Homo sapiens: one gene and its partner. The protein of the gene in region 1 interacts with the protein of each later gene in a biochemical or structural test. Each region holds a gene or a part of one and is shown on either strand. Other genes may lie near its edges.

Evidence for each region.
Region 2: the proteins of HLF (region 1) and BATF3 interact in a test that uses a peptide from one of them, tested with the Homo sapiens proteins (one large-scale study listed by IntAct).

The regions. Positions count from the first base shown.
Region 1 is NC_000017.11:55,267,668-55,271,487, forward strand, and holds part of HLF (hepatic leukemia factor), read left to right. Parts: intron 1-83; coding exon 84-419; intron 420-3,820.
Region 2 is NC_000001.11:212,693,239-212,697,058, reverse strand, and holds part of BATF3 (basic leucine zipper transcriptional factor ATF-like 3), read left to right. Parts: coding exon 1-98; intron 99-3,820. UniProt on the Homo sapiens protein: AP-1 family transcription factor that controls the differentiation of CD8(+) thymic conventional dendritic cells in the immune system.

The DNA of each region.
Region 1 (3,820 bases):
CAGGCCAGGAAAAGTGATAAAAGAGCGGTATTGTTTTTCTTTTCTTTCTTTTTTTTTAAGTCCAGCTTTCCCTTCTTCTGCAGCATTTAGTAAAGATAAAGACAAGGAAAAGAAGCTGGATGATGAGAGTAACAGCCCGACGGTCCCCCAGTCGGCATTCCTGGGGCCTACCTTATGGGACAAAACCCTTCCCTATGACGGAGATACTTTCCAGTTGGAATACATGGACCTGGAGGAGTTTTTGTCAGAAAATGGCATTCCCCCCAGCCCATCTCAGCATGACCACAGCCCTCACCCTCCTGGGCTGCAGCCAGCTTCCTCGGCTGCCCCCTCGGTCATGGACCTCAGCAGCCGGGCCTCTGCACCCCTTCACCCTGGCATCCCATCTCCGAACTGTATGCAGAGCCCCATCAGACCAGGTAAGTGCCCTGAAGATTCTCCCTTCAGAAAGGGAGGAGGAGGGTGAATGGGACAGGCAAGGTAGAGTTAGCATAAACATCTTAACACTCAGGTTTTAGCAAAGATCCTAAGAGAGGTACCTTCTTCTGCTCCACTCCTGGCAGAGGCTCTCCCACTTTAATGAGCATCCATATCACTCATCTGGAGAGTCCGGTAAATACAGACTCTTTGTATCTACCCCTAGAAATTCTGATTTTGCAAGTCTGGAATGAGGGCCCAGGAATATGCATTTTAACCAGCTCCCCCATGGGATTCTAATGCAGCTGATCCAAGGGCTGCAGTTTAAGAAATAACTTACAGTTAATGATTTGGATAATTTAAGCCTCCATCGCATCTTGTATCTCTTTTCCTCATTCCCTAAACACGTAGATAACAGGTAGACTCTCAATAGGGTTTGGTTTACCTATATTCACTCTTGTCTGTCCTGAAGGAAAAAAAATGTGAGTAGGGATATGGGGCAGGTATTTTTTTTTCCATCCTTTTCATCTTGTTTTGTCATTAGCTGAGAAGTAGAATCTAAAAGCAGGCTCTCATATTGTGTTTCTGAGCCTTCTTCAGGACCAGACTCCATCTCTCTCGTTGCTATTCCCATAAACCCAACTGTTCTTATCTTTTTTTTTTTTTCATTTTCATCTGTCTATCACACTCAGTCCACCTGTATCAAAGCCCACAAGGCTGCAAGGTCAGCTGTAAATGATCTTGAAATAGTACACAAAAATATCACCTGAAATGACCAGTACTTCAAAACCCACTGCTAATGCTCAGATATAAACACAGATTGAAGGAGCTTTGAATTCATGCCTTTAGCACCCTGTAGTACCAAATGAACAGGAAGAAAGACGATTTCATGTGCACAGGTAACCAGGAACAAAGATTCAGCCAGATAAATCATCCGGAAGGTCACAGAGCTGAGGGCCTTAGCTGTGGGGGAAGACAGAAAGCAGGACAATGCGAAACTTGTGCTAGAGATTGTTACTGAACTCCGTGTCCTCGACTCTTGTAGAAATTTCTGTGGCACATGGAGCAAGATTTAAATGGAAGGAAATGATGTAAAGGAGGAAGAGAATACCCCTGCCTCGATATATTCATATTGAAGTTCCTCCTTTCAGACCTCTGTGTGCTGGCCCCTTCTCCAAAATTCACTTTGAATTATAACTCAAGGCCACTGGCTGGAATGGAATTAATTCTTAGCCTCCAGCCACCCCTGGAGGCTGTGGGAGCTTGGGAAAACATGCCTTTATGTGATCCTGATCCCCTGCTACTTAGAATGTGCGGTACCACTATCTTCAATTTTTTTGTAGGAACAAGCAACAAAATGAATAACCCTTCAAAGTGGGAAAACAGCCAGGAGAGAAGGGAACAGAGCCCCAGTGAGAGACACAGTTATGCCTCGGTCATTGTGCTCTGTAGACTGAGAATCACCACTTTGTAGCTGTGTGACCTTAGAAAGCAACATCATTTCTTGGAGCCTCAGTTTCCTTTTTTGTAGAAGGATACAATTTCTATTTGATTGAGTTATTGTGAAAATTAGAGATAATACGTATAAAGGGTCAACTGATTAGCAATGAGTCTTCTATTTGTGGAAGCAATTGTGATCATTGTTGTATGTGTCAACTTTTATTACTTATTTCAATCCCTGTCTTCTGAAATATCTTCGTAAGGTAACTAGGTACTGTATATAACCCTTCCTCTGGAGAGAAATGTCAGGAGATTTTGCCCAGTAGTTACTGGATTGGGGTATTTTGACCAACACTTGTAATCAACTGACAAGTATTTCTTAGTCCCCTACCAAATTTAGGATGTGTACCATGTTAGGAATACTATATTTTTTCCCAGGAGACCTGCACATATTGGGTGTTCACACCTTGGTTCCTACTGAGAGTCAAAAATTGGGGTTTTGGGATTTGAAGCAGCTTGAAAACTCATTTGTCAGAGCTCATTAGAGTCAGTATTGATCAGTGACTCTCAGAAGGCTTGGAATGCCCAATCAGAGTTGCAATGCATAGCAAAGAACTCCTGAGTTTCAGGGGATGTCATTTTGTAAGGTTCTGGTGGAAAGACACTGGGATCAAAGGGAACACTGAGGGTCTAGAAATAAGTTCTCCATTTAAATGTCTTATTTTAAATAATGGAAACACACTTCAACATAGTTTCCTTCTTGGAGTTGAAAACTCGATAGTCCTCATAGAAAAGGAAAAAAGTTAAACCTCGTCTTCAAATACCAAACTCAGGTAAAATAACACTCTGCTGTTCATAGATTGTTGATCATTATAAAGATGCAAAATAAAATTCTAAGAGATGTTGGCCTGATGGATGGATATTGCAAGCAAACCTGAAAAAGGAGAAAGTTCTTGATTATTCTGTGTGGCTCACAGGAGTGACCAGAATAGAAGTACCAAGTTAATCTTGAGGAAAATAAGTCCTCAGAAGGGAAGAGCACAGATGTAGCCTTGGTCATTCTGGGAGCTGTATAATTTCAGTCTTGATTGGTGTTTCTCAACCTTGGCACTGTTAATGTTTTGGGTAAATCTTTTTTTTTTTTTTTTTTTTTTGAGACGGAGTCTCGCTCTGTCGCCCAGGCTGGAGTGCAGTGGCGCGATCTCAGCTCACTGCAAGCTCCGCCTCCCGGGTTCACGCCATTCTCCTGTCTCAGCCTCCCGTGTAGCGCCACCACGCCCGGCTAATTTTTGTATTTTTAGTAGAGACGGGGTTTCACCGTTTTAGCCGGGATGGTCTCGATCGCCTGACCTCGTGATCCGCCCGCCTCGGCCTCCCAAAGTGCTGGAATTACAGGCGTGAGCCACCGCGCCCGGCCTTGGGTAAATCTTGTGTCTTACGCTTTATAGGATGCTTAGCAGCATCGCGGCCCCTACCTCCTAGTTGCAAGTAGGACCCCCAGTGCCCCAGATGTGACAAGTAAAAATGTCTTCAGTCACTACCAAATGTCCCCTGGGCATAATACAGTCACTCCCGGTGGAGAACCACTGGTCTAGAACTTCAATTTGGACAGCAAAATCTGGACTTACTTTAGGACCCTGTCACACGCATGGATAAACTACCTGCAATGCTTTATGGCAAAACTTTTAAGAAGGTCAGGGGACATTGGGTTGCCAAGAAGAAATAGAATATTAATAAGAGCATAATTATACACTTTAGTTAATAAAACTAAGCCATCAGGCTAATCAGGAGATAATTGCAGAGTAGTTTACCAAACAATTGTTTTTGGCTATTCACTCAGCATGCATCTTTTGAGCTATGCTCCGTTGTGGTGTTAGTGCTTCTTGTTTGGTTGAAGGGCAATGAAACCATGAGCTGATAAAGTATGCATTTCTAGGTCTACCCCAAGGATGTCTTGGAATGA
Region 2 (3,820 bases), on another chromosome or scaffold:
AGGATGATGACAGGAAGGTCCGAAGGAGAGAAAAAAACCGAGTTGCTGCTCAGAGAAGTCGGAAGAAGCAGACCCAGAAGGCTGACAAGCTCCATGAGGTGAGACCGTGGTAGGGGCAAGCCACCTTAGAGCCACACAGCCTCTGCCTTGCACGGGAGTGGGGGTGATGACTGTTCTCTTTATCACGATTTCAGCAACACTCATATCTAATTTCTGCCAGGTCCTTCCAGCCCAGTGTTCTCACTGTTTGCTCACGGACGTGTTCATTTCTCCCTCATCCACTGAGTGCTTCTCATGGTCAAGTTTATTTCATTATAAAACAAAACAGAGCCTCTTCTGGACCCTGATTCCCTTTCAAGTTCTTGCTCCATTTCTTTTCTTCCCTCACGTCCTTACTTCCTGTTTTGTTTTGTTTCCCTCCAAAGTAATCCGCTAACATCTTTGCTTCTTAAAAAAGAGTAGTTACACCTGTTGTCTCTGTGTCCCTGGTTCCTGGTTATTCCCCAATCCTCTGTGATTTAATTTCTGCTACCCCCTTTCCACTCAACACACATATATATACACACAAACAAACACACACATTCACACATGTACCCAATGTGTGTGTGTACACACACACACACACACACACACACCCTACAGAAACTGCTCCCATTGCAGCCATCAGTGCCCTGGCACTGCCCTATCCAGGACTCTCTTTCTGGTCTCATCATCCTTTACCTTGTTAGAACATTCGACACTTTGGACCCATCTCTTCTTAAAGCTTTCCCCTCTTTTGCTTCTAAAAGACCACATTTCCTAGTTTTCCTAACCCTCTTCGCCGATTTTTTTCTCTATTTCTTTGTTAGCCTTCGACCCTTTATTGGCTTAAATGTTGGTGGTGACCAGTGTTTCAAACTCTGCCCTTTTTTTTTTTTCTCACCCTGGAAGACTTAATCTATTAATCTGTTCTCCCAGCATCAGCTCCCAACATTGATTACTCCAGGCAGGCCCTCTGTCCTGGACCCTAGACCCCATAGCTTCAGTGTCTGCTGAGCTGTTTCTCCATGGGTCCACTGCAGGCTCCTGTGATGTACCACATCCATAAAAGAGTGTTATTGTCCGTTTACCCTGAGACTTTCTCTTCTCATTGTCTTCAAACTGCAGTTAATGGAGCGAACCATCTTTCTCATCACTCAAATCAGAAGCCTAGGATTTATCCTAAGCCATTCCTTTTCCCTCCGCCCTCATGCATACACCTGCATAATCCTGCAGTTGGGACGTGGAGCTGCTCCATACCAGGAACTGGCCTTGAAAGCATCCAAGGATCTATCTGAGGAATGGGCCACCATTCCATGTTCTTGTCTTTGTCGGGGTTGGTGTGTGTAATTAAAGATTTTAGTTTAGCTCTCTCCTGCTATACTTTCTTGTCTTTTTGAGACGGGATCTTGCTCTGTTGCCCAGGCTGGAGTGTGATGGCATGATCATGGCTCGCTGCAGCCTCCACCTCCCAGGCTCAAGCAATCTTCCCACCTCATCCCCTCAGCCCTTATTTTTGTAGGTTTTTTTTTTTTTTTTTTTTTTTTTTTGAGACAGAGTCTCTGTTTGCCCAGGCTGGAGTGCAGTGGCATGATCTCAGCTCACTGCAACCTCTGCCTCCTGGGTTCTAGCGATTCTCCTGCCTTAGCCTCCCGAGTAGCTGGAACTACAGGCGCCCGCCACTACACCCACCTAATTTTTCGTATTTTTAGTAGAGATGGGGTTTCACCATGTTGGCCAGGCTGGTCTCGAACTCCTCACCTCGTGATTCACCCGCCTCGGCCTCCCAAGTGTTGGGATTACAGGTGTGAGCCACTGCGCCTGGCCATTTTTGTAGTTTTGTAGAGGTGGGGTTTTGCCACGTTGCCCAGAGTAGTTTCAATCTCCTGGACTCAAGCGATCCACCTGCCTTGGCCCTGCAAAGTGTTGGAATTACAGGCATGAGGCATTGTGCCAGGTCTCCTGCCATGCTCGTCTCAGCAAGGCCATTCTGGGGCATTGGCAACATGGAAACTCTGAGGTGTGTTGGGGAGAGGAGAGGAAAAGGGCAATCTTAAAACTCTAACAATGAACAGAGAACAAATTTAGAATGTACATACTCCACAGAGAGGTGACCTTCCGATATAAATTCACAGTGTGGCATAAATCATAAATGTCAGATTCTTTCCTAGAAGTAAGAAGGCTGGGCCCTAGAAAGAGACTGAGGTCTCTAGACTAGTGTCACAGAAGGTGCCTCCTAGCCTTTGTTCTGAAGAATTTCCACAGAAGAACGGCAATGCCCTTTGCCTCCTTTCTTTCTTCCCCCTTGCTCCTGAAGCAATTGTGGTTCTAGTGTCATGTTACCAAAATAGCCCCCAGAGGGGACCTGTGGCTCCCAGTTAGTGCATGGCCCTGTATTCAGACCACATGTGCTGCTGGATGGCCAAGGCATTACTCCTGAAGAAGCTCCTAGTCCCAGCCAGGTACATTAATATTTTTAAAAACTAGTTTTAAAAACATCAGTTGTAAATCTGGACTGAATACGTATCTGGAGGACAATATCTTGGACAAGATCTTTCATGGAGCACAGTCGAGTAGATCCATTTCACAAATACCAAGGCATTGCCATTGGGTCACAAAGAGAGGAGGAAGATCTCATGCCTTGCCTGTCGGTGGGAAGCCTAGAATTTCCCAAGGAAAGGATGTTAATTTCCTACTGCTGCTGAAACAAACTCTCACACATTTGGTGGCTTAAAACAACACAAATTTACTATCTTCCAGCTTTGGCAGTCACACATCAGAAGTGGGTCATATTGGGTCAAAATGAAGATGGCAGCAGGGCTGCCTTCCTTCTGGAGGTTCTGGAGAAGATTCGTTTTCTTGCTTTTCCCAGCTTCCAGAGGCTTCAGTGTTCCTGGGCTTGTAGTCTCCTTGAGCCAGCAATGGCCGGTTGCGTTTTTCTCAGGCTGCGTTACTCTGGTGCTGTTTCCGTTGTCACATCTTCTCTGACTCCCCGACACCCTCTTTCACTTACAAGGACCCTTATGATTGCGTTGGGTCTGCCTGGATAATCCAGGATAGTCTCCCCATCTCACGCTTCTTAATCACATCCGCATAGTCCCTTTTGCTATGTAAGGTGACATAGTCGCAGGTTCAAGAGATTAGAATGTAAACTTCTGTGAGGAGTGAATCGATTATGCTGCCTAGCACAGAAGGTAAATGTAAATACTCACGGAATTTTACTACAATATCAAAAAAGTACCTGTATGAAGCGTTGGCTCTCTCGCACTTTCTGTCACTGCTGCATTTGATAACTGAGTGAACCAGGTGCCTGGGAACTTCAGAGTGGTGCCACCTTTACCCCTATCTGACCTCTCTTGGAACTGTGGGGTGGAGACCTCTTCTGTAGGGTCCCTGGCCTGCTCTCCAACCCAGAGACTGTGTTGCATGACAGTCATGCCAGCTGCCCTTTTCAGAAATGGGGTGGGTTGATCTGAAGCCCAGACACTCCACGGAAGAGCACCCCCTTCTCCTCTCTCTCTGTGGGGCTGAAGGAATGGGTCAGGATTACTCTCCACTGGCAGATCACCTCAGCAAGACCAGCTTTATTGAGAATCACAGGGTCAAAGAGGCCAGGACAGCGGCTCCACCTGTATACAGACCCCAGAGCTGTAGCCCTCACCTTAGCCTCACTAGCTCCACACAAGTGTCGTTGGTCACAAGCGGGTGAGGAAGCAGACGACTGGCTTAGGAAAATGGAAGTATATCCCAAACCTTCTGCAGAACCAAAGGAACATCATCTCTGAACCAAATCATTACTCAC